3 separate regions of the Homo sapiens genome follow, and all the other regions are linked to region 2. Evidence: fine-mapped expression QTL. A gene starts in region 2. Each other region holds a variant in brackets. All regions are shown on one strand. Distances are between the middles of the regions.

Region 1 (8,183 bases), 30 kb before region 2:
CAGTGTAAAAGTGTTCCTATTTCTCCACATCCTCTCCAGCACCTGTTGTTTCCTGACTTTTTAATGATCGCCATTCTAACTGGTGTGAGATGGTAACTCATTGTGGTTTTGATTTGCATTTCTCTGATGGCCAGTGATGATGAGCATTTTTTCATGTGTCTGTTGGCTGCATAAATGTCTTCTTTTGAGAAGTGTCTGTTCATATCCTTCACCCACTTTTTGATGGGGTTGTTTGTTTTTTTCTTGTAAATTTGTATGAGTTCTTTGTAGATTCTGGATATTAGCCCTTTGTCAGATGAGTAGATTGCAAAAATTTTCTCCCATTTTATAGGTTGCCTGTTCACTTTGATGGTAGTTTCTTTTGCTGTGCAGAAGCTCTTTAGTTTAATTAGATCCCATTTGTCAATTTTGGCTTTTGTTGCCATGGCTTTTGGTGTTTTAGACATGAAGTCCTTGCCCATGCCTATGTCCTGAATGGTATTGCCTAGGTTTTCTTCTAGGGTTTTTATGGTTTTAGGTCTAACATTTAAGTCTTTAATCCATTTTGAATTAATTTTTGTATAAGGTGTAAGGAAGGGATCAAGTTTCAGCTTTGTACATATGGCTAGCCAGTTTTCCCAGCACCATTTGTTAAATAGGGAATCCTTTCCCCATTTCTTGTTTTTGTCAGGTTTGTCAAAGATCAAATAGTTGTAGATATGTGGTATTATTTCTGAGGGCTCTGTTCTGTTCCATTGGTCTATATAAGAAATAATTCTCTCTTTGACATGGGCTTTCTTTTTAAGAACCCAAGGCATTGTTTTGTAGAGAGTCTCTAAATTTAGACTTGCATAATTTTTTTCCTTTATTATATTCAGGTTAAATGTTTTTGACACATATACTACATAGGACATGTTGATCTTAGTGGGTCACATCAAGAACCACATTATGTCAGTTTATCTCACAGTAATAATGCTAAATTTGACCACTTAGATAAGGTGGTATAGATACCATCAAGTTTCTCCACTATAAAGATATTTTTTCCCGTTGAAGTTAATCAGTGGGGTGACATTTGGAAACTGTGTTTCCTAAAAACCTTTCACCTAATTATTTTAGCATGCATGTTTTTGGTGGTTGCAAAATAAATTGAGGCTTTGTTGAATAATAGGAGATAGCCAAACAAATAGAGCAAGGGTATAGCATTCTAATTATAAAGACAAAGTCTTGGAACAGCAAAAAATACATTATGCTCCAGGACTTGCATGTAGTCTGGTATGGCTGGACTATATAGCAAAGATGGAAGAGTGACTGAATGTATCTCCAGGTTCATCAGGCATGAAAACCTTTGGTTCCTCCGCGGTCTTCTGAGCGGTCACGTGAACGGCTTCCTGCAGGCTGGCCATGGCGCTTCAAGTTCCCAAGGCTCCGGGCTTCGCCCAGATGCTCAAGGAGGGAGCGAAACACTTTTCAGAATTAGAAGAGGCTGTGTATAGAAACATACAAGCTTGCAAGGAGCTTGCCCAAACCACTCGTACAGCATATGGACGAAATGGAATGAAAAAAATGGTTATCAACCACTTGGAGAAGTTGTTTGTGACAAATGATGCAGCGACTATTTTAAGAGAACTAGAAGTACAGCATCCTGCTGCAAAAATGACTGTAATGGCTTCTCATATGCAAGAGCAAGAAGTTGGAGATGGCACAAACATTGTTCTGGTATTTGCCGGAGCTCTCCTGGAATTAGCTGAAGAACTTCTGAGGATTGGCCTGTCAGTTTCAGAGGTCATAGAAGGTTATGAAATAGCTTGCAGAAAAGCTCATGAGATTCTTCCTAATTTGGTACGTTGTTCTGCAAAAAACCTTCGAGATGTTGATGAAGTCTCATCTCTACTTCGTACCTCTGTAATGTGTAAACAATATGGTAATGAAGTATTTCTGGCCAAGCTTATTGTTCAGGCATGCGTATCTATTTTTCCTGATTCTGGCCATTTCAAAGTTGATAACATCAGAGTTTGTAAAATTCTGGGCTGTGGTATCACTTCCTCTTCAGTATTGCATGGCATGGTTTTTAAGAAGGAAACAGAAGGTGATGTACATCTGTCAAAGATGCAAAAATAGCAGTGTACTCTTGTCCTTTTGATGGCATGATAACAGAAACTAAGGGAACAGTGTTGATAAAGACTGATGAAGAATTGATGAATTTAAGTAAGGGAGAAGAAAATCTCATGGATGCATAAGTCAAAGCTATTGCTGATACTGGTGCAAATGTTGTAGTAACAGGTGGCAAAGTGGCAGACATGGCTCTTCATTATGCAAACAAATATAATATGATGTTAGTGAAGCTAAACTCAAAATGGGATGTCCGAAGACTCTGTAAAACAGTTGGTGCTACAGCTCTTCCTAGATTGACACCTCCTGTCCTTGAAGAAATGGGACACTGAGACAGTGTTTACCTCTCAGAAGTTGGAGATACTCAGGTGGTGGTTTTTAAGCATGAAAAGGAAGATGGCATCATTTCTACCATAGTACTTCGGGGCTCTACAGACAATCTGATGGATGACATAGAAAGGGCAGTAGATGATGGTGTTAATACTTTCAAAGTTCTTACAAGGGATAAACGTCTTGTACCCAGAGGTGGAGCAACAGAAATTGAATTAGCCAAACAGATCACATCATATGGAGAGACATGTCCTGGACTTGAACAGTACGCTATTAAGAAGTTTGCTGAGGCGTTTGAAGCTATTCCCCGTGCACTGGCAGAAATACTCTGGAGAAAACTCTGGAGTTAAGGCCAATGAAGTAATCTCTAAACTTTATGCAGTACCTCAAGAAGGAAATAAAAATGTTGGATTAGATACTGAGGCTGTAGTCCCTGCTGTAACGGACATGTTGGAAGCTGGTGTTCTAGATACTTACCTGGGAAAACACTGGTCTATCAAACTCGCTGCTAATGCTGCAGTCACTGTACTTAGAGTGGGTCAGGTAATCATGGCAAAACCAGATGGTGGGCCCAAGCCTCCAAGTGGGAAGAAAGACTGGGATGATGACCAAAATGATTGAAATTGGCTTAATTTTTACTGTAGGTGAAGGCTGTATTTGTAGTAGTATTCTAAGAATCGCGTGATGTTTTCTTATTCTCCTTACATTAAGAGGTATTTTGTGTTTGTATTCTTGGCTGGATGTTATAATAAACATATTGTTACTGTCAAAAAAAAAAAAGGAAACCTTTGGTCTACTAAATAAAAAGTATGGAATGAAGACAGTCCAAAGCCATTCAAAGATTTAGGCAAGTGAGTAACATAATCATACCTACATTTTAGAAAGACCATTTTGAAAATGGTGTGGGAGTGGGATGAGACAGGAGGTCCTAAAGACAATTGTATCATCTGGTTGAGATAACAAGGAGTAGATAAAACTATCTTGGGGATGTTAAGAGGAGAAAGGGAAAAGGCTTGGTGACCAGATATATAACTCATGGTTTTGTGGGTTGGGCAACTATATGGATGGATGGTGGTACTGCTGGTGAAAAGGAGTAGGTTTGGAGAAAAAGATGAAATCATGAGGTTGGAATGCAGAACACAATCGACCTAGTGTCAAAGCATAACTAAATGCAACAAACCAGTAGTGGTAATTTAAACATATAAAATTCCTGAGGCCAGGACAGCTCTGTCTGAAGATGAGTTAATATAGTATTCAGGCATTAAGACTACTTTTTAGGCCAGGTGCTGTGGCTCACGCCTGTAATCCCAGCACTTTGGGAGGCTGAAGTGGGAGGATCACGAGGTCAGGAGTTCGAGACCAGCTTGGCCAACATGGTGAAACCCTGTCTCTACTAAAAATACAAAAATTAGCCAGGCATGGTGGCAGGTGCCTGTAGTCCAAGCTACTCGGGAGGCTGAGACAGCAGAATCACTTGAACCTGGGAGGTGGAGGTTGCAGTGAGCCAAGATCATGCCACTGCACTCCAGCTTCGGCAAAAGAAGTAGAGACTCTGTCTCAAAAAAAAAAAAAAAAAAAAAA[AG/G]AACTGCTTTTTAGAAAGCTCCACGATACTAGAAACCAGCCTTATTATTATTAAAAGTAATGGCAAAAAAATAAGCAATTACTTTTGCACCAACCCAATGTTTCCAGTATCCGTATCCTACGCTGTCCCTAGGAAACAATAACAAGCCCGAAGTATACCAAGATAATTCACTGAAAACAACTTTGAGATAAATTCTAAAATCCTAGGCTGTGTATCATTGGACAAGTCACATAACTTTTCTAGGCCTCAATTCCCTCATTTATAAAACCTGGATAATGACACCTATTCTGCTTCCTTCATAGAGTTTTGTGAGAGTCAAGTTAATGCATGTAAAAGCAACTTATAAACTGTAAATTGCTACATACATGTAATTTATCATACAGTTTGGAAAACAGTGGCCTAAACTTAGCTCTTGAGCCTTTGAAACTGGAAATGAGACTGAACAGAATGTTGACAGCTTAGTTCTGTCAGACTTCTTGGTATGAGAATACAAACTATTGACCTGTGGCCTTATCATATCACACACAGAATATTATTGTTACTTGAGAAATCATATATGCACTCCTCAAACAACACTCTTCCTTCACTCCTCCAACACTCTCCCTTTCAGTGCATCCAGGGTCCAACTTCAGATCTGATCTTGATCTGTGCCAACCTAGTATAAATTAGACCTTTTCCAAACTTCATGCATAGACCAAGGGGAAGATTATTGGCATCCTGTTTACCTCCACCAAAGCAAAATTTTACTTATGTGGTACTGATTTCTCTTTCTCTCATTTCTCCACTTGATCTTTGTCACGACTCACAGAGCTCTGAGTCAGCATCCAACCTTAAATGATGACCTGCCAAATCGTATCATTTCTGGCTTGGTGAAAGTGAAAGGAAATGTGAAGGAATTCACGGAGACAGCTGCCATATTTGAGGATGGCTCCAGGGAGGATGACATTGATGCTGTTATCTTTGCCACAGGCTATAGCTTTGACTTTCCATTTCTGGAAGATTCCGTCAAAGTGGTCAAAAACAAGATATCCCTGTATAAAAAGGTCTTCCCTCCTAACCTGGAAAGGCCAACTCTTGCAATCATAGGCTTGATTCAGCCCTTAGGAGCCATTATGCCCATTTCAGAGCTCCAAGGACGCTGGGCCACTCAGGTATTTAAAGGTAAGTGACCATGCAAATAGACTACTTAATTACTTGGTGATATGTTTACCTCTGTTTAGGTACTTGTTTTTAAATAGCTAGAGATAGCATGTATGATTACAACAGTGCCTAGCACAAAGTTAGTACAGAAAAATATATTTTTGAGTGAATCTAAAGTAGCAATTTATAACCATGGACATACATCATACCTGGGAAATTTTTCCAAGCTATGCATGCTTTGACACCATCCTTGCTGATGCTTATTTAGTTAGTCTGGGGTGGGGCAGTCATAACATCTTTGAGAAAAATATTCCCCAGTAATTCCAATGTGTACTCCAAATTAGAATTTACTCATCTAGATTTTAGGCAACTGGCATATATTTCTGAAGTAAAATAGTTTTATCTTCTTTCATTATAGATAAAAATAAAATATAGAAATAGTATGACTTTATTTCGGCCGAAAATTAAGACCTGGTTGCAGACTAGTCAATATTGTAGGATATTCAATCCCCCAAATTCTCACTTTTCTCCTTTTATGTCCCCTCTTTCAGTTTTGGCTAGGAATATATGAAAAAAAAAGGGGAATAGGTTTCATATGAGTCAGTAGAATGATATAGCTTCCAAAGAAATAATTAAATCTAGCATCATTAAAAAACTATAATGTTCTAGAACATTACAACTGTTGTTCTCTAAACTGGCCAGACCACACCTAATGATACATTTTAAAAGTGAAGCTGGAGTGCGTTTAATAAGGAGAGAGAGAAAAATTTTTTAAGGGATTTGAAAACATGCCATCTGAAGTACAACTGAAAAAGCCGGAGAGAGATTTAGCCTGGAGAAGATAAACTTCAGGAGAGATATGAGAATTTCCTTCAAATATCTGAAGGGAAGGCACATGGAAGAAGGATTAGATTTACTCAGTATAGCTTCAAAGGGTCAAACCAGAATCAAGGAGTGAAATCTTGAGGGTTACACATCAGCTTACCATTAAGAAAAAAATCCAAAACCTTTTTCCTATCAGCCAATGCCATTTCATGATGGAACCAGCTGCCTCTGAAATTCTAAGCAGAAAAGGAAAAGGATGCCAAATGACTGAATGCTCACTGGGCCGGGGCAGGAGAGGGGGAAGGTATGGAGTAGATTCAAGCCTCAGGATAGAGAGAAACAAGATGATGTTTAAGGGTCCTTCTAAAGAAGAAATTCACTGATTCTATGGTTGTTATAACAAAATTTGCTATTGTTACTAGCATTTAATTAAAACTACTCAGAGTTCCTGTTGGAATTACACCTTTTTTGTTTTCACTAGTGAAAATCTTCACAGTTGCAGAGAAAAAAAGAACCAATGGTATTACAGTTGATAGTTCAACAACCTTTCTAAATTTCCCCAAATTTCTATTACTTCCAGTCCTATCCAGCAGATTATGTACTACCTGAGAGAACTATACAAGTAGTCAAACGCAAATAGCCCATTAAGTTGGCCTAATTCTAGTCATATTAAAGTGATCTTTTAATTGGGTCAATTACATAAGCGGAGAACAGTTCATTAAAACAGGCCACAGCATCTTAGTATACTTTAAGCAACTGGGACTCTTTTCCAAGACCAAGTGAATTCTTGAGAGGAAATAGAGAAAATGAGTATTTGCAAGAGTCTGCATTATGGTTATGAGATTATGGGATCTTAGGGAAAATGTACAAAAAGCCCAGCTTCCTATGCTAGCAGAAGCCTAGTGCTAATTCCTCCAGCTTTTTTCTAACACCTGGAAGGAAGAAATCTTCAGAATTCTCTAACTTTACCAGACTTCCAACAGGAACTCTGGGTTTTTTATTCTGTCCATGGCCAATCTGTCTGCCTCCCACATTCTTGCCTTTCTCTTCCCTGAATTATCCCTTCACTATGCCAATTTTAAACCCTTTGGATTAGCTTGTTTTTCCCATTTTTTTCATGTCTGCCCAACAAAGCCTGCCTCCTTCCTTGTCTGTTCCCTACCAAGCCCCATTTTCCTTCTTCTTCTGTTCTCTGGAATTATTGTTCTCTTGTCAAGAAAATATTCTACTCTTTTCTAGAACACTGAATTTACTTCCTTGCCTTGACTGAAATGAAACATAGTTTCTGTTTTGATTGCGTCTTTTGCAGCCCTTGCAAGTGTTTTATTTTCACTCAGCAACTTTCTTTCCTTCAAAACTATATCAAGTTACACCAAATCTCTGGATCACAAGAAGTCATTATGTCATAGGCTGGCATTAAAGTTCCTCCACAAATTGGATACAACCTCCAATTTCAGGCCCATCTTTCTTTCTTTTTTTTTTTTTTTTTTTTTTTTTGAGATGCAGTCTCGCTCTGTCGCCCAGGCTGGAGTGCAGTGGCGCTATCTCGGCCCACTGCAAGTTCCACCTTCTGGGTTCAGGCCATTCTACTGCCTCAGCCTCCCCAGTAGCTGGGACTACAGGCGCCCGCCACCATGCCCGGCTAGTTTTTTTGTGTTTTTAATACAGACGGGGTTTCACCATGTTAGCCAGGATGGTCTCCATCTCTTGACCTCGTGATCCGCCTGCCTCAGCCTCCCAAAGTGCTGGGATTACAGGCATGAGTCACTGTACCCGGCCTCAGGCCCATCTTTCACTAGTCTTTACCATACTTCCTACAATACTCTAGATGCACTGGATGACGTACCCACTAAGCAGCAAACACAGCAGGTACCCTTGTACCCTGTGCTTTTGCTTCCACTGTGCTTTCTTCTTGATATGCCCTCCTTTTACTTTTTATTTCTATAGGAAAAGTCTATGCATATTTCTTCCCTCCCTTTGTAATATAGTGATAGCTCCTTAAGTAAAGGACTCATGTTTATTTGCCTTTGTATTGCAAGCCTAGACCACTGCCTAGCACATAAGAGGTATCTAATAAACATCTATTCTAAGAAATGTCAGTTTAGCCTTGAGGTAAATTAAATTCTAAATTCTGATGTAGAAACTTCTTATTTGAGGATCTCAGCTTATGGGCTACCTTAGCCAATTTCCAGTTATGTTAAAAGCCTGAACTGGACTG
Region 2 (8,183 bases):
TGGTAAGTATCAATAACTCCACTGCAGTCAAGATACAGACCTGTTCCATACCTCCCCTTCAAAATTTCTTCATGCCCTTTTGTAGTCAATCACTCCCCACCCCCCACCCCCAAGTCCTGGCAAACACTGATCTGTTTTCTGACCGTATAGTCTTCCTTTTTCCAGAATGTCACATAAGTGGAGCCTGGCTTCTTTTACTTCCCATAATGCATTTGAGATTCATCAATATTATTGTATGTATCGAGTTATTCTTTTATTACTGAGTAGTATTCCATTTATAGCTATGCTACATTTTAATTATTGATTCACCAGATGTATTAGCCTATTTTCACACTGCTATAAAGACATACCTGAGACTAGGTAATTTATAAAGAAAAGAGGTTTAATTTACTTATAGTTCTGCATGGCTGGGGAGGACTTCAGAAACTTACAGTTATGGTAGAAGGGAAGCAAGCTCATCTTATGTGGCACAGGGGAGAGACAGTGAGTGTGTGTGAATGAAGGAAGAACTGCCAAACACTTTTAAAACCATCATCTCTGGTGAGAATTCATGCACCATCACAAGAACAGCATGGGGGAAACCGCCCCCATCATCCAATCACTTCCCTCCCTTGACACGTGAAGGTTATAGGTCCTTCCTTCAACACGTGGGTATTACAATTTGAGATGAGATTTGGGTGGGGACACAGAACCAAACCATATCACCAGGTGAAGGACATTATGTTTTTTCCATTTTAGGGTTTGTGTTTTTTCTATTATATGAATAAAGACATATATGTGTTTACAGGTTTTGTGTGAACTTGTTTTTATGTCACTCGGATAAATACCCAGGAGTGGGAATTAGTATGCTGCATGATTAAGTAAATGTTTAACTTTATAAAAAAGATCAGATTGTTTTTTGAAACAGTAACCATCAAGATCAGATGTTATACCTATCCTTGGTCATAAATGGAGGATGAAACTTGGTGAGTGGAGATGGGAATATAAACCTCCAGATGCCCAATTTAACCTGTCATCCAGTTCTGTAAAATCAATCCTTCATTCTCACATCCTCACTTCTCAGAGGAAGCGAGGTCTCTTTAGCAGTGTGTGTAAAGGCTTGCATGTGAGGCTGCCCATGTTATTTTTCTGTTTATTAGGCAGAATGATTGATCTGAGGAGACCAGTGGCAATGACATCCTAGACACAGTAACATCAGGACAACCCATTACTTTTCCTATTACCTCCTTCTTTTCCTTTCCTCTAGAAAGAAAGAAGAGCATTGGGGTGACAGCAATAAATCTAAAGGGAACAATTATACTGATACTGGTTAAGAGGATCTTGTATCTTTACTTATTCCCGAATCTAAGAAAAAAAAAAGGAATTTGGGACTAAGGAGAATTCATTCTTCCTACAGTGTCACATTACATTTGTTCTGTGTCTAAAACCTGCAATATTCAAAACTGACTTTTATTATTAACTGTTGAGTGACTTACAAATGTTGTTAGAGCAGAGCAGGGCAGAACAGTGTCATGGATAATCTTCCAAAGCAGATAATTCAAAAGTCATTTCCATTTAGCTGTGCAAAAACAGTTTATTTCTCTCCGTCAGTTTTCCATTGGTTAACGTACTTTGTTTCTGCTAGGCTGATTTGACTACTGCAAGGAAATACATACCAAGGACATATTATTTGGCATGGTGAAACCACCTTGGGGTCAGAAAACTGAATACTACACAAGTCAAGGTTTAATGTATTATGTATCTTCAAGGGCCTTGCTTCAGTGTCCTATGGTAAGGAATTGAGGGGTGGAGGGAGAAAAGTAGGGATAACCAAAAAGCATGTACTCAGACATAAAGATTTTGGAGGGGTGAGCAAGAAGTTGCAGTAAAATCGTACCTTTTTTTTTTCTTCCTGTAAACTGTCTTTGGTTTATGAGCCAAAGAATGAGTTTATAAGAGGCAGAGCAAAGAATAGGGGAGTAGTGAATTTGTTGTACTTAAGTGGGATGTCAACTTCATAATATAAAAATGAACGTTTCAGCAAATAGAGCTGCTCACTCAGAAAGGGTGGCCTATGTAACTTGGGGTTCCCCATCATTGGCCGTGTTTAAGCCTAAGTGGCATATCTGGTTAGAAATGGATTACAGTAAACAGTATTCCTGTATCCTTCATTCCGCAAATGCAAAAGCCTACTCTGTATAAGGTACATGCAGAATATGAAAAGGTATCAAATCTGGATCTGCTCTCTGCCAGCTGTCAAAGCATTGCTTCTCACACACTTTAATGTGATCTTGTTAAAATGCAGATTCAGAACCCTGGGGATGGGGCCTGATTCTGCATTTCTAACAGGCTCCCAGTTGACGCCAACACTGCTGGTCTGTGTAACACAGAGTGATAAACGTTTCTAGAAGGAGACATGCAAATACTTATAATACAAAGGTAAGTACCTTAGGGATTCCACTAATTTTCATAAAAAACCTGGATCCCTCCCAACCCTAGGGCTGTCTTTGCCCTTTTTATACCTTTAGTGTTCCTTCTGATGTTTTCGTTGTTGCTATCTTCCTTGAATTTTATTTCTTCTGAGGTTTCTCACTGTGTATGCTGTTTCTTAGCCTAGGAGAGCCTTTTCGTTCTTCTCCTAAGACTAACATTTTACTAATTTGTCAAGGAGCTAGAGCTCCTAAACACGCCATCTTGAATTCTTCCCTGCGACCCCAGTCGGGCTGAAAGCTCCTTCCTTGTCGCTCCCCACTGAACAGATTTTTCTTGGGGCGGGGAGAGGGGGACGGAGTATCGCTGAGTCGCCAGGCTGGAGTGCAATGGCGCGATCTCGGCTCACCGCAACCTCCGCCTCCCGGGTTCAAGCGATTCTTCTGCCTCATCCTCCCAAGTAGCTGGGACTTCCGGCGCGCGCCACCACGCCCAGCTAATTTTTGTATTTTTAGTAGAGCCGGGGTTTCACCTTGTTGGCCAGGATGGTCTTGATCTCCTGACTTCGTGATCTGCTCGCCTCAGCCTCCCAAAGTGCTGGGAATACAGGCGTGAGCCACTGCGCCCGGTCAGAACAGTTTTAACCTCCAGCAATGACCACTGCTTCCTTCTGCCTGCAGTTGGAAGTCAGTTTCAGTTTTCTTATTCCCTATAAGGAACCCACCTCTCCGGTCGCCTAACACACAGATGCTGCCCAGAAAACGTGCTGGCGCACCTGAGGCGGGGTAGAAAGCCGTGCCGCTCCTCCCGGCACCGAGCACCGGAGCCCAGGGAGGCGGCCTCCGAGTGTCATTTGGGGACGTCCCTTCTGCCGGGTAGTCTCAGAGGCCAAGCGCTCCTATTATCCCGGGCGCAGTCTCCCCAGGCGGGACAGGCCCTGCCTGGCGCCCCCTCCTGGCGCTGGAGGCTGCGTGCGACTGCCCACCATCGAGGCGGCGGCGGCGGCGGCTAGAGAGGCCGGCGGGTCCCGGGCGCCGAGGCTGCAGGCCGCAGGGAACGCGCACTGGGCGGACTCCGCGCCGCCGGCCTTGTAGCCATTTTAGGAGGAATCGCTGGTCGCCAGCGAGGGGTGCGGCTTCAATTTCAATAACTTTATTGGTGGCCTGATCTGCAGAACAGCCATCACATCAGTGGCCCTTGGAGGAGGGAGCGCATCGCCCGAGGTGACTGGAGTGGGGGCGCCCCTGGCAGTGAGCGCGGGGACGCGGGGGAGGTCCCGATAGCGGGTTTCCTGAGCTAGGGCCAGTGAGGGCACCGGGGTATTTGCAGGCGTTCCCGCAGGCCAGGAGGGAGAGGGCTCCAGGGCTCGGCTTCCCTGGGGCGGGGAATCCCTTGCCCTGTCCCGAGGCGCAGGGGCGGGGCCGGGGGGCGCCCCTGACGCGGCGGCTGAGGTGTTCCCAGCCCGGTGTCGTTCCCCGCGGTAGGTGGTCCCCGACGAGCTGCAGCCATGGGAAACACCACCAGCGACCGGGTGTCCGGGGAGCGCCACGGCGCCAAGGCTGCACGCTCCGAGGGCGCAGGCGGCCATGCCCCGGGGAAGGAGCACAAGATCATGGTGGGGAGTACGGACGACCCCAGCGTGTTCAGCCTCCCTGACTCCAAGGTAAGCGTCCCATGCCCGCAGTTGGTGTCAGTACTGCAGCGGGTTGATTTCTGGGCTCCTCTTCCCTTTCTTGGTTCTTTTCTACCGCGCCGAACCGGGCTATGGTTTTTTGAATTAAAGGGATTTATCGGGGACAGAGGTGTTGGATGATAATTCCTCTTGAAGTGCCGCCTCAAAATAGGATAAAGAGGCGGAGTTCTTGCTTTCCTGGTGTTCTGACTAATCTGTTGGCCACATTTTTAGGATGGGGACAATAGACATCCCCCCATCCCCGATCCTCCGAGCACGAATGGCTCTCTTCCATAGCGTTGCTGAATTTGTAGTTTGTAATCCCTGGTGGACAACTTCAGAGGGTAGGTTGCACGAGTTGCTGACCATAGGTGGTAGTTTCTCACCTTTGCCCTGAGGTGGCTAAATGAAATTCTTTTTCTGAAAATTTCTATGTATCAGTATCATTTTTGCTCTTCTAGCAGCTCTACAGTTGTGATCCTCTTCCCTTTTGGCACGGCTGTAAGCAGCAACTACTTGCTTATTGAATACTTTCTCCTAGTCTTGGGGATCAATTAAGGACATCATTTAGTTGACTGCTTAATTTTTGTCCCATACTTTATAGTTGTGGTGGCTGAGGCTGTGCCTCTTTCACGCCCCGCTGCTGCTCCGTAGGTGGAAGAGCCAATGATTCCACGACTTGTTTACTCCTCAGTAGTACTTCAAAATGTTGCGTGGCTAAAAAAACGACAACCCACAGCTGCCCTGAAGACCTTGCTCTCAATTCCAAGGACTTTCAGGAAGAGAACAACTTGTTTTCACTCTGTAAGAAAGGACAGATGGAGCTGATAGCAGCGATTACCATTCTAATGTTTCTAATGGCTTTCAGAGCTGTCAGCATGAAATACAAGTAATTCCTCCAGGTAGACTGACTGGATGAGATAGAAAAATGGAGGGCTTGAGGAGATTCGGGTGTGTTTGATGTTTCCTATCATTTCATCACTTCCCAGGGAACTGGGGCTTTAGAGAGTGAATAGAGTATTGTTTGCCATATTGGTAGCACATGGAATTTGGATTCCATGATTTATTTCTTTGGATCTCAATTGATAACATCATCACAGCCTGGCGCAGAGGCTCACGCCTGTAATCCCAGCACTTTGGGAGGCCGAGGCGGTTGGATCATTTGAGGTCAGGTGTTCGAGACCAGCCTGACCAACATGGTGAAACCCCGTCTCTACTAAAAATACAGAAAAAGTAGCCGGGCATGCTGGTGCATGCCTGTAGTCCCAGCTACTCGGGAGGCTGAGGCAGGAGAATCGCTTGAACCCGGGAGGCGGTGGTTGCAGTGAGTTTAGATCAAACCACTGCACTCCAGCCTGGGTGACAGACTCTCAAAACAAAAAAACAAAAAAACAAAAAAACCAACCATAATCACAGAGAAGTGAGAGTGATTAAAAGGAGCACTTATTGGGGTTTATTCTCCAATTCTCCATTCTTATTTGGGCTATCTACAAGCCATCTGAATTTACTTCTTCAAAGCTTTCGAAAGGTGATCCGCCTCATTATATTTTTACCCTTTTCCTATGTTGATGACTCAGGATTTAAATACAGTGTATTTGTCGAACTGTGACTGCAGTAATTGGTGTCCTGATTAAAAGCCAGGTTGCTCTGTCTGAATTGGGGCCTATTTTGTATTATTCTTATCTCTCACCTCAGTCTTGGCATTTGTGAATTAAGAAAATTATTCATATAATTTTCAGATTGTCTGAAAATCAGATAATTCCTAAGGTCTCATTTAAGTCTAAAATTTTATAGTTCTCAATGTAGCCTCTTTACTTCTAAACTCAACATTTTACTTAAACATCAAACTGTAGTTCTGATTGTCGTTTTGCCTCTTTTCCTGGTAGTTTTGCTGAGTAACTTGGAGTAAACAATCTTTCTGCTAGTCAGTTGCATTCATTCCTACTACAGAAATGTCATGTCATAAGTGGAAGGGCTTTCCTCCAAAGCTAGGCATATTAATAGTTTGTAGCTTTCAAATTCTAAACTGAAAATCCTGTCATAAAAGTAACTGACAGAAACAGTGGCAGGGGGGCCTACTTTGCTTTGAATGCCTGCCTTTTTCAGTGGACTAGTTCAGTGGTTCTCAATCCTGTTTGCACATTAGAATCACCTCAGATTTCTTTAAATAGTTTTTGGAAAATTTGAAACACTTTCAAAGTAGGGGGAAACAGTATAATGACATCTATATACATGCCACCCAGTTTGAACAATGATCATATCTTGAATGAACATATAACATCTATACCCCAGTCCACTATTCTCCCACTAGTTATTTTGAAGCAAATTCCCAGATATTATATCAAGTATTATTTTATCTGTAACATTTTAGGATGTACCTCTAAAGATGAGGGTTTTTTCTTTGTTATTTTAACATAATCACGGTATATCTGGGAAGCTTTTTTTCCTTTATTTTAACATAATCACAGTGTTATCTAGAAAGCTTTTTAAAAATAGGTTCCCAGATCTTACATCCGAATCTGAGGGTTATTCTTAGGCATATGTCAAATTCTTGTAATTCTAACGCAGCCAGTTAGTCAAGAGTGCATTGTTCTGAGAATATGTAGTTTTCTCTTAAGTCAATTCCTTATGTGAAAGTCCTTTCAATTCTCTTTCTCTATTTACTTTGGATTATCCTGCTACTGATATGCTATACTGTAGTTTTGAGGAATATCAAGAGAATGTATGGAGGGAAGCTATGTCAACCATTTTGAAAAGAAAGCCCAAATGAATAAGCTAGTCCTTTTTTTAAAAAAAAACCCACATTATTCAATTTAGTAATATTTAGGCTTAATACTATACAGTCTTATTTACCAAAGTCACTTAAACCAGTCTAAAATAGGGGTCAGCAATCTTTCTGTAAAGGGCCAGATAGTAAATAGTTTAGACTTTGTAGACCATACAGTCTCTGTTATAGCTACGCAATTCTGCCACTGTAGCCTGTAAGCAGCTATAGACAATATAGGTAAGCAAGGCAGGTATGTTGGTTCACACCTCTAGTCTCAGCTTCTCTGGAAGCTGAGGTGGGAAGATGGCTTGAGCCCAGGAGTTCGAGGCTGCAGTGAGCTATGATTACACCACTCACTGCATTCCAGCCTGGGTGACAGAGCAAGGTCCTTTCTCAATCAATCAATCAGTAAAATAATAGGTAAACAAATGGGCAGAGCTGTTTTCAAATAACACTTGATAAAAGCATCTGGCTTACTGGCTGTCTGCCAACTCTTGGTCCAAAGGATAGTAATGAAAAGAAACAGGAGTTACTGTTTTTACAATCCCATAAACCTCATTTGATAAGAGAGCTACTTTTGATAAAGGAAATTGTATTTTTGATCTCTTGCTTCTTGAGGTTCTAGAATTTTTATTCCTACTCCTGAAATAATTAGTATAAGCCTGGGATAGGGGAATAAGTAAGATTTCATAGCCACTTCTCAAGTTTTAAGAAATCAGTGATCTAGTTTTTGAATTTTTAATGTTTCTTCTTTTTACTTCTTAGCTGAAATACAGTTTATGAATTACTTATGAATTTTGATATCTCTGACTTCCATTACAACTGGTAATTGAGAGCTATTCATATTTGCCTATAAAAATATATGGCTGACTTAATTATCTTTTACAGAACCATACTTTGTTTTCATTTTTTTTTCCTCTGAAGAAAGACTCAGAAGCATATCATAATTGCCTGCCTATGAGTTAAACTAGTGGTAGGGAGTTATTTTTTTCTTTTTTTTTTAAGGGAGAGTCTAAGGCTCTGGAAGGGTAAGTGACACAGGTAGACTCAAAAGTTAGGCTATGATTTAGGCAGTGCTTGAGCATAGGCCATTTGACCATTTTTGGTCCTAGATGAGTTCTTTTTCTATAATTTGTTCAAACTCTGATTTAGTTGCTAATTTTGGGGTTTATATCCTTAGCCAAAGCCTAGCACCCTTCTCTATCCTAGGGAGGAGAGTGACCTTTTTAGAATTCTTGGGTCACAGTTTATTCTAGGGATGACCTACTCCTTCTTACAGCTCCCTGGGGACAAAGAGTTTGTATCATGGCAGCAGGATTTGGAGGACTCCGTAAA
Region 3 (8,183 bases), 840 kb before region 2:
TGGGCATGGTGGCGCGTGCCTATAGTCCCAGCTACTCGGGAGGCTGAGGCAGAAGAATCCCTTGAACCTGGGAGGTAGAGGTTGCAGTGAGCCGAGATCTGGCCACTGCACCCCAGCCTGGTGACAGAGCGAGACTCTGTCTCAAAATAATGATAATAATAATAATAATAATAGGCTGGGTGCAGTGGCTCATGCCTGTAATCCCAGCACTTTGGGAGGCCGAGGCGGGCGGATCACCTGAGGTCAGGAGTTCGAGACCAGCCTGACCAACATGGAGAAACCCCGTTTCTACTAAAAATACAAAATTAGCTGGGTATGGTCGCACATGCCTGTAATCCCAGCTACTAGGGAGGCTGAGGCAGGAGAATTGCTTGAACCTGGGAGGCGGAGGTTGTGGTGAGCTGAGATCACACCATTGCACTCCAGCCTGGGCAGCAAGAGTGAAACTCTGTCTCAAATAATAATAATAATAATAATAATGTGCACTGCTTTGAATATTTAACCCTTTTCTGCCATTGAACCATTAGAGTCCACATTTCCTTTTCTATCCAATATGAGAGACTTAGATCCATTATAATTAGCAGTAATTAGTGTTATGTTGGAGATGATGGGCATAGTTAGTCTCATTCCCACCACCTCATTGTATGATTTCTGTGTTTTTGCTTTGTTTATAAAATCTCTTCCTGCCTTTTTTTTCTTTTCTTTCTTTTTTTTTTTTTTGAGACGGAGTCTCACTTTGTTGCCCAGGCTGGAGTGCAGTGGCATGATCTTGGCTCACTGCAAGCTCTGCCTCCCAGGTTCATGCCATTCTCCTGCCTCAATCTCAGGAGTAGCTGGGACTAAAGGCACCCGCCACCACGCCTGGCTATTTTTTTTGTATTTTTAGTAGAGATGGGGTTTCACCATGTTAGCCAGGATGGTCTCGATCTCCTGACCTCGTGATCCGCCCGCCTCGGCCTCCCAGAGTGCTGGGATTACAGGCATGACCCACCGCGCCCGGCCTCTTCCTGCCTTTCTTAAGTAGACTGTTCTGTTTGGGTAAATTTGTTGTTTTCCCATAGTGTTTTTGAAATTCCATATCCCTGATTTGTTAATATATTCTCTTAGATCTCAGGTGCACAGGAAGAAGGTAATCATGTACCTTAGCTCAGGGCACATTATGGTGGCTGCTCTCAGCAAGGCCCTTACTGTCTTTCCTTCTTTTCTCTGTTCATCCCACTCCCATTCCCCTGTCCACTTCCAGACACACATTCTGAGGAGTTTAGCATATGCTCTTTTATCCTACACTTTCTCTGCATATTTTAATAAAGGGATGTCTGGGGAGAACACACATTGTTCTTTGGGGGTGAGGGGTGTTAACTTTATTTTATTTTATTTTATTTTATTTTATTTATTTATTTTGAGACGGAGTCTCGCTCTGTCACCCAGGCTAGAGTGCAGTGGCCCGATCTTGGCTCACTGCCAGCTCCACTTCCCAGGTTCACGCCATTCTCCTGCCTCAGCCTCCTGAGTAGCTGGGACTACAGGTGCCCGCCACCACGCCTGGCTAATTTTTTGTTTGTATTTTTAGTAGAGACGGGGTTTCACCATGTTAGCCAGGATGGTCTCGATCTCCTGACCTCGTGATCCACCCACCTCGGCCTCCCAAAGTGCTGGGATTACAGGCATGAACCACCGCGCCTGGCCTAAAACAACTTTAAAATGTGAATGGTTTCCAAAAACCCATTTCATCCTCTTTACTCCATTCTGTGAACTACCTTCTCAACTTTTCTATTCTAATACAAAAGTTTGTGTATAGGCCGGGCACAATGGCTCACGCCTGTAATCCCAGCACTTTGGGAGGCTGAGGGGGGCAGATCACGAGGTCAGGAGATTGAGACCATCCTGGCTAATACGGTGAAACCCCTGTCTCTACTAAAAATACAAAAAATTACCTGGGTGTCCTGGCACGCACCTGTAGTCCCAGCTACTCTGGAGGCTGAAGCAGGAGAATCGCTTGAACCCAGGAGGCGGAGGGTGCAGTGAGCCAATATCGCGCCACTGCACTCCAGCCTGGGCGACAGAGTGAGACTCCATCCAAAAAAAGAAAAAGAAAAAGAAAGATAGAAAGCAAGCAAGCAAGCAAGCAAGCAAGCAAGCAAGACAAAACCAAAATATCAGAGATGATAAATTCGCTGGATGGGATTAACAGCAGATTAGACGTTGCAGAAGAAATGATCAGGGAATATGGAACCATGAATAATTGAAAATATGCAAAATGAAACTCACAGACAAAAGATTTTTTTTTAAATGAAAAGATTATCAGTGAACTGTAGGGCAGATTTAAGAGGCCTAATTTATGAGTAATGTGAGTCCCTGAAAAGGAGCGGGGAGGAAAGGAAGCATTTATTTTCTTTCTTTGTTATTTTTATTACGAGTGGGGTTTCAGTATGTTGCTCAGGCTGGTCTCCAATTCCCGGCCTCACTCAACACCTCCTGATTCCTGAAGGTGTGAGCCACTGTTCCCAGCCAATTTTTGAAGAAACAATAGCTGAAAAGTTCCCAACCATAATGAAAATTATAAATCCAGTGACCCAAGGAGCTGAGGAAACCAAAGCACAAGAAACATGAAGAAAACCACTGCTAGATACCTCATAATAACATTGCTGAAATCCAGCCAGAAGAAAAAGACATTGTACCTACACAGGAACAAAGATGAGAATTGCCATCAACTTTCTTTCTGCTCTCGCCGGCCCCCACTGGGAGCAGCAATGCAATGGGAGCAGACAGAGAAGCAACATCTTTAAGGTACTGAGGGCAGAGGAAGTTAACCTAGAATACTCTGCCAGAAAAAATAAATTCCCAAAACTGGAAGTGAAGTAAGGACATTTAGAGACTTACATAAGCTGACCGAATTCACTACCAGCTGACCCACACTACAGAAACGTCAAAGGAGTCTTCCGGGCAGAAGGAATCCAATACCAGATGAAAATCCAGATCTACATGAGGAAATGAAGAACACCAGAAATAGGTAACTATACTAGGTATTTTCTTATTTTGTAAATTTCTTTTGTAAAAGTTTGACCATTTAAACAAAAGCAATAACAATGGGTTGTGGGTTTATAACATGCGTAAAAGCAAAGTACATGTCAGCAATAACTTCAAGGCCAGAAGGCGAGGTTTAATATCACTTGAAGGTTGACTGTGTTCAGTTAAAAAGGTTTGCTATAAGCCCTAAGGGAATTACTAAAGTAACAAAAGAAAGAGTTATAGCTAATAAGCCAACAGAGGAGAGAGAATGGAATGATATAAAAACCGTGTGAACACTATGATGGAGTAATTGCTCTTCCTATAGTAATTGCACCTCTATCCTATAGAAATACACCAGTGGCTGAAAACGCCGAAAATGCCCGTACAAGAATGACTAGAACATTATATGTAATCATAAAATCACAGAACCAATTTAACTTCAAAAGCGTATGGAAAGGGCTAAATGAATGACAGTAAACAAACAAACAAACAAACAAACAAACAAAATAGAGAGAAGGCCGGGCGCGGTGGCTCAAGCCTGTAAT[C/T]CCAACACTTTAGGAGGCAAAGGCGGGTGCATCACGAGGTCAGGAGATTGATACCATCCTGGCCAACATGATGAAACCCCCGTCTCTACTATAAATACAAAAATTAGCTGGGCGTGGTGGCGCGTGCCTATAATCCCAGCTACTCGGGAGGCTGAGGCAGGAGAATCGCTTGAACCAGGGAGTCGGAGGTTGCAATGAGCCGAGATGGCGCCACTGCACTCCAGCCTGGTGACAGAGAGAGACTCCGTCGAGAGAGAGAGAGAGAGAGAGAGAGAGAGAGAGAGAGAGAGATCCTAGAATCCTAGCGGACCTTGATTTACGTCCTCATGTCGTATGGGAGACACGGAGGAGAGGCGGGTAAAGTTGGTCTTGCTCTGCCATTCCATGAGAGAATGTGCTGGGTAGAAGAAAGTTGCCAGCGGTTTAAGCATTTTTAAAATGCAAGAAACGCTCAGTAGAACGAGCTTGAACCAGCCAACTCCAGACTTGGAAGCAAGCACACCACCCGACTGCGACATACGGACAGTCGACCCTCGCTCCGGCATCACCATGCAGAGCAAGCGCCCATCCAATGCTAGGCGGAGCCACCGTCTTTTGCAGAACAATTGTGCAGGTTCCAAAGCCTCGGAAAACCGGAGAGGCGCATCTTGCCGGCTACGGTTGAAACCCGTTCACTGGGTGATTCTGAAGCTAGAAGGGCAGCCGAATGGCCTTCCCCCCGTCCTGCCCCTCGTCCACTGTAAGCTCAGGGGGGAGCGGGACCCAGGGAGGTGAAGTGCACAGACTCGGCAGAGGCGGCGGGCAGAACCGCGGGGGTGAGAGGGCGCGGTGGCTGTGGGGCGGGAGCCGCTGCTGAAAGGAGGCCTGGGTTGTTGGGAGGGTGACTGTCCGTGGAATCTTTGGCGGAGGGTGGTTTGGAAGAATGGCGAGGGGAGAGCAGAGGAGAAGGTGGTGACCCTGATCGTCGGCCAGGGGAGAGTAGGCTGTGCTGTCCCTCCTCTCCCCTTATGTGGCGGGGGACATACAGTGGTCAGGAAGGGGGTTCTCCCTGGAGGAGGCTAGTCCACCACACTTCGGCTCCGCTGACCCCTGCGATTTCTCCACATGCGGGGCCCTCGTCCGCGGTGGTGTTTGCGCTATCCGGCGGCTGGGTTCGCGCACTCACTCTCCTGACATGCCTTGGCTCACCGCCGATGTGGATATCGCCGCCAGGGACCCTTCCCGCCCTCCTACGAATCTTGAGTGCGCTTCCTTGGTGTTCTCACCGAAGCTTACGAACAGACAGATGTGAGCTCTCTGTCTTTTACACGCTGAATTTGGCTATAGCAAAAAAGCCTTGACCAAGAGCTTGGGTCTCCTTCGGACCTGCACACGACTCCCCAACTCCCGCCTGCAACGGCGGCTCTTGGATCCCGGGCAGGCAGCGTCCACCCAGCGTGGAACCGTGGCAGCCGCAGCCCCCGCAGGTTGGAGGGCAGACACTAGCAGGAGAAAGGCCACAAGGCCTGCGTGGTGGGAAAGCATGGGAGACGTCGCTTTCCTACCGGGCGAGAAGGTCTCCCTACAGTCTTTGGAGACAAGATGGAGGGAGGCACCCCTTCCAGGAACAAGGCGGCTGCTCCTGAGGCCTGGCTCCGCACGGAGGCTCCTGGGTCCCGCGCGCCCTCTCCCTACCCGCTGTAGCCAGAGCTGCTTCACATATCTCAACCGGCCTCCTCCTCCTCCCCAGCCGTCCTTGGGACAGCAAGGCCCCCAGCCCGTGGGAAAGACCTAGCCTCCTCTCCAGCACTTGGAGAGGGAGTTGGATGCACGTCTCTTAACCCCAGGAGGACAGAGACCCTGAGGCAGGAGGGGACCCCTTCCCTTGCTGCTTCTCTTGGCACAGCCGGTCCAGGGGGCTGGCTCAGGGCCCAGGACTCCTCGCTCCTCCTGGAGGGCCTGGGTCGCGTGGCCCAGGAGCTGGCCACATGGGCATCTCCCGCACTGCTCCTCAGGGAACGGGAGGCATTATCCTGCAGGGCCCACTCTTACCCATGAAAGACACTCGGGAAATGCTCCTGCGGAAGCTGGAGCTCTGCGCGTTTGACCACTTAGTCTGTCCGCCCATCCTTCCTTCGGAGGGTCTTGGGGAGAGAAGAAATGCTCCTTCGGAGGGTCTTGGGGAGAGAAGAAATGCTCGAGGACGATGCGCTTTGCAGCGTCTCTACCAACATCAGAAGAAAGCAGGGCGCGTCTTCCTGGAAGAAGGCGGCCGGAGGCCTGCGGTCGCAGGGAGGCTTGCGGGGCAGGAACGCCCTATCTCCGCCGTGCTATCCAGCGGCTTGCAGCATCCCACCTGGCGGACTCCTCTTCCTCTCTCTTCTACTGTGGCTCTTCTATCCTGGTGTCCCTTGAATGCCTATCTTCCTTTTGTGCCTCCAAACCTCTCACGCCCGCCCCAAGTTACTCATTTCCTTAGTTGTTCTGAACTTTAAATAAGGTAATGCATGTAAGATTGCATAAATGCTCAATAATTGTCATCTGTTATTATTTTCATCAGTAACATCATCTGAATCATCAGTATTGTCTATTTTTAACAGCTGCATTTTTCATTGTCCGAATATAGTCACATACATTTGAACATTTTATAATTATTGAATAATAAATTCGTTCTGCTATTTTACAATAAAAAATAATGCTGCAGAGTGTATTCTTACACATATATCTTGGCAGATGTAGGCCAGAGGCTCTTCTTTGGCCATTCTGTGGCCAACCTATCAATGTATACACTTTTAATGAGATTTTGCCAGCAATCAAAGCCTTCAGTGAAAATGTCCCTAGCTCTTTACTACATCGGATCAAGGACTCTGGACAGTAGGCACAACATCCTGGAATATTGTGGAATATCTCCTGAAACGGAGATATTATTCTTTCCTCTCCTCTTTTGTCTTTGTCTTTTCACAACATCTTAATGACAGTGCTGGCGACAAGAGTGTAACTATATGTCAGTGTTCTGCTGTCCTTGCCTGTGTGGGTCTTCTCCCAAACCCGACTTTCCTCCAGCAGCTTCACTGAAAAAGAGGAGGGGGCTGCGGGGGTGGGGGAGTGGGGCGGGGAGGGGAGGAGGAAATAAACTGAATAGGGAGGAAGCAGCTCACAGGCCAGGAGAGGGTAAGGAAGGGAGTCAAAGACAGAATTTTCTTCAGCAAACAGTAAAAGGGGAAATCCGGGGACGCTAAGAGTTTTTAAACCTTTGCTCCATCACATAAGTAATCCATGATTTTCCGTTACACAAATCAGCACTCCTACTCCTCCCTCCCTCCCCACCCCCAATCCTGATTCCTGTTTACAAAGAATGCTCAAAAACAAGGAATTATGTATAACAGTTCCCAGTTTACTCAGGAAATTCTCAGATTACAAAGAGACTTTACGAATAACAAGTGAAGAGAAGAACCTTAGTGGTTCCAACATAGTATGGCCATCGTTTTATACTCAAAATATAGAAAGACAACCTCAGAATAGAATTGAATAAATCAAGTTTATCATTAAAACGCAAAGAAAAAAAAACTCTCCAAACGTTGCTGATCTTCTGTTTTAAACTACTGTTAGACTGGTGAGCTGGAGAGCCGGGGGAATCCACCAAAGATTTTTGGATGAAAATTAATCATCCCTTGTCCACCGTAGTCGCACCCCAATGCCCCTCAGATCCAGTCCTTCGAAGGAGTGTCCAAGAGGTATAAAGCAAAACCGGAAAAACAGTTCCCAAATTCTGGAGTTTGTTTTCTCTCATTAAAAATATAAATATCAGGCTAACACCTATTGACACACAATAACAGGGACACAGAATCCCTCCCGGAAGACCCATGGGCCCACGGACCCCGCGGATGCCACAGTGGTTGACGAGGTTAAGTAACTGGGTTCAGGGTGTCTGGGCATACCTGTGCGTGAGACTCTGTCTCCGCTGCTCCCCTCATCTCCACTGCTCCCCTCGTCTCCCCACGATCCTCCCTTTTCCTTGGGCCGCTGATGGCTCTCCGACTCACGAAGAGTCTCCCTGGCCCCTGCAGCTCTCTCCTTCCCAGACCTTTACTTCTTGATCCTCACTCCATAGTGAGATGTGGCCTAAGGTAGGGGAAAGTCCAGCACGAGAATCCGTCTGATGGCCTTTGGATTACTCAGGGGTGTGCCCGGAGACTAGATGAAAGTAGCAAAGGCTTTATTTAGTTCCCAGTACTCCAAACTGCAGCAAACCACCGGAAACACCCCCACTTTCAAAGACAGGCTTTGAGCAGAGGAAATGTAATTTCAAGATTAGATCCAGCACAGAGAATATTCCAGAGGTGGCAGGTTTAGCTTCCAGCCACCACGACTCAAGGCCCCTAAATGCTGTACAGCCTGTGTAGTACAATAACTTTGTTGGCTAGAAATGTAATAGCCCTTCAAGCATGAACTTGGAGCATGAAGGGTAAGAAGGCCTGCTTTGGCCGGGAGTTGAACCCAGGTCTCCCGCGTAGGTGGGGAGAATGCCACCGCTGAACTACCAATGCTCCACTGAGTGCGGTTTCACTAGATCTAATTTTGAAGAGTCTCTGGAAGGACTTTGAAGCAGTGTTTCTAAAATAGATTTGTATAGGACTCTTGAGTAGACAC

Alleles and levels. Alleles are on the strand shown, and positions count from the first base shown. SD is a standard deviation of normalised expression in the study named.
As copies of AG replace G in region 1, the expression in monocytes after LPS of the gene that starts at base 3,591 in region 2 goes up (moderate effect, 0.51 SD a copy in Quach 2016).
For the expression in anterior cingulate cortex of the gene that starts at base 3,591 in region 2, allele C in region 3 goes with a higher level than allele T (large effect, 0.87 SD a copy in GTEx).

Evidence for each region. PIP is the estimated chance that this variant, and not a neighbour inherited with it, causes the effect.
Region 1: its variant is the best candidate, but not a certain one, in a credible set for the expression of PRKAB2 in monocytes after LPS (Quach 2016, PIP 0.81).
Region 3: its variant is the best candidate, but not a certain one, in a credible set for the expression of PRKAB2 in anterior cingulate cortex (GTEx, PIP 0.53).

What each region holds. Positions count from the first base shown.
Region 1 is chr1:147,198,130-147,206,312 of GRCh38, reverse strand. FMO5 (flavin containing dimethylaniline monoxygenase 5) reads left to right here. Exons shown (of 9, transcript NM_001461.4): 7 at 4,809-5,161. It also overlaps a transcript of CHD1L not described here and the pseudogene CCT8P1. Among named protein-coding and RNA genes, the nearest start is that of FMO5, 23 kb to the left of the region's middle. The variant AG/G (reference allele first, on the strand shown) is at 4,000.
Region 2 is chr1:147,167,878-147,176,060 of GRCh38, reverse strand. It overlaps PRKAB2 (protein kinase AMP-activated non-catalytic subunit beta 2), which reads left to right and starts at 3,591. Exons shown (of 8, transcript NM_005399.5): 1 at 3,591-3,632; 2 at 3,894-4,072; 3 at 8,128-8,183. The coding sequence starts at 3,917. It also overlaps a transcript of CHD1L not described here. RefSeq lists silencers at 3,262-3,491, 3,662-3,931.
Region 3 is chr1:148,010,956-148,019,138 of GRCh38, reverse strand. It overlaps a transcript of GPR89B not described here, the pseudogene PDZK1P1, the pseudogene TRR-CCT6-2 and the pseudogene RNU1-129P. Among named protein-coding and RNA genes, the nearest start is that of TRQ-CTG3-2, 18 kb to the left of the region's middle. RefSeq lists enhancers at 4,562-5,273, 5,274-5,985. The variant C/T (reference allele first, on the strand shown) is at 3,555.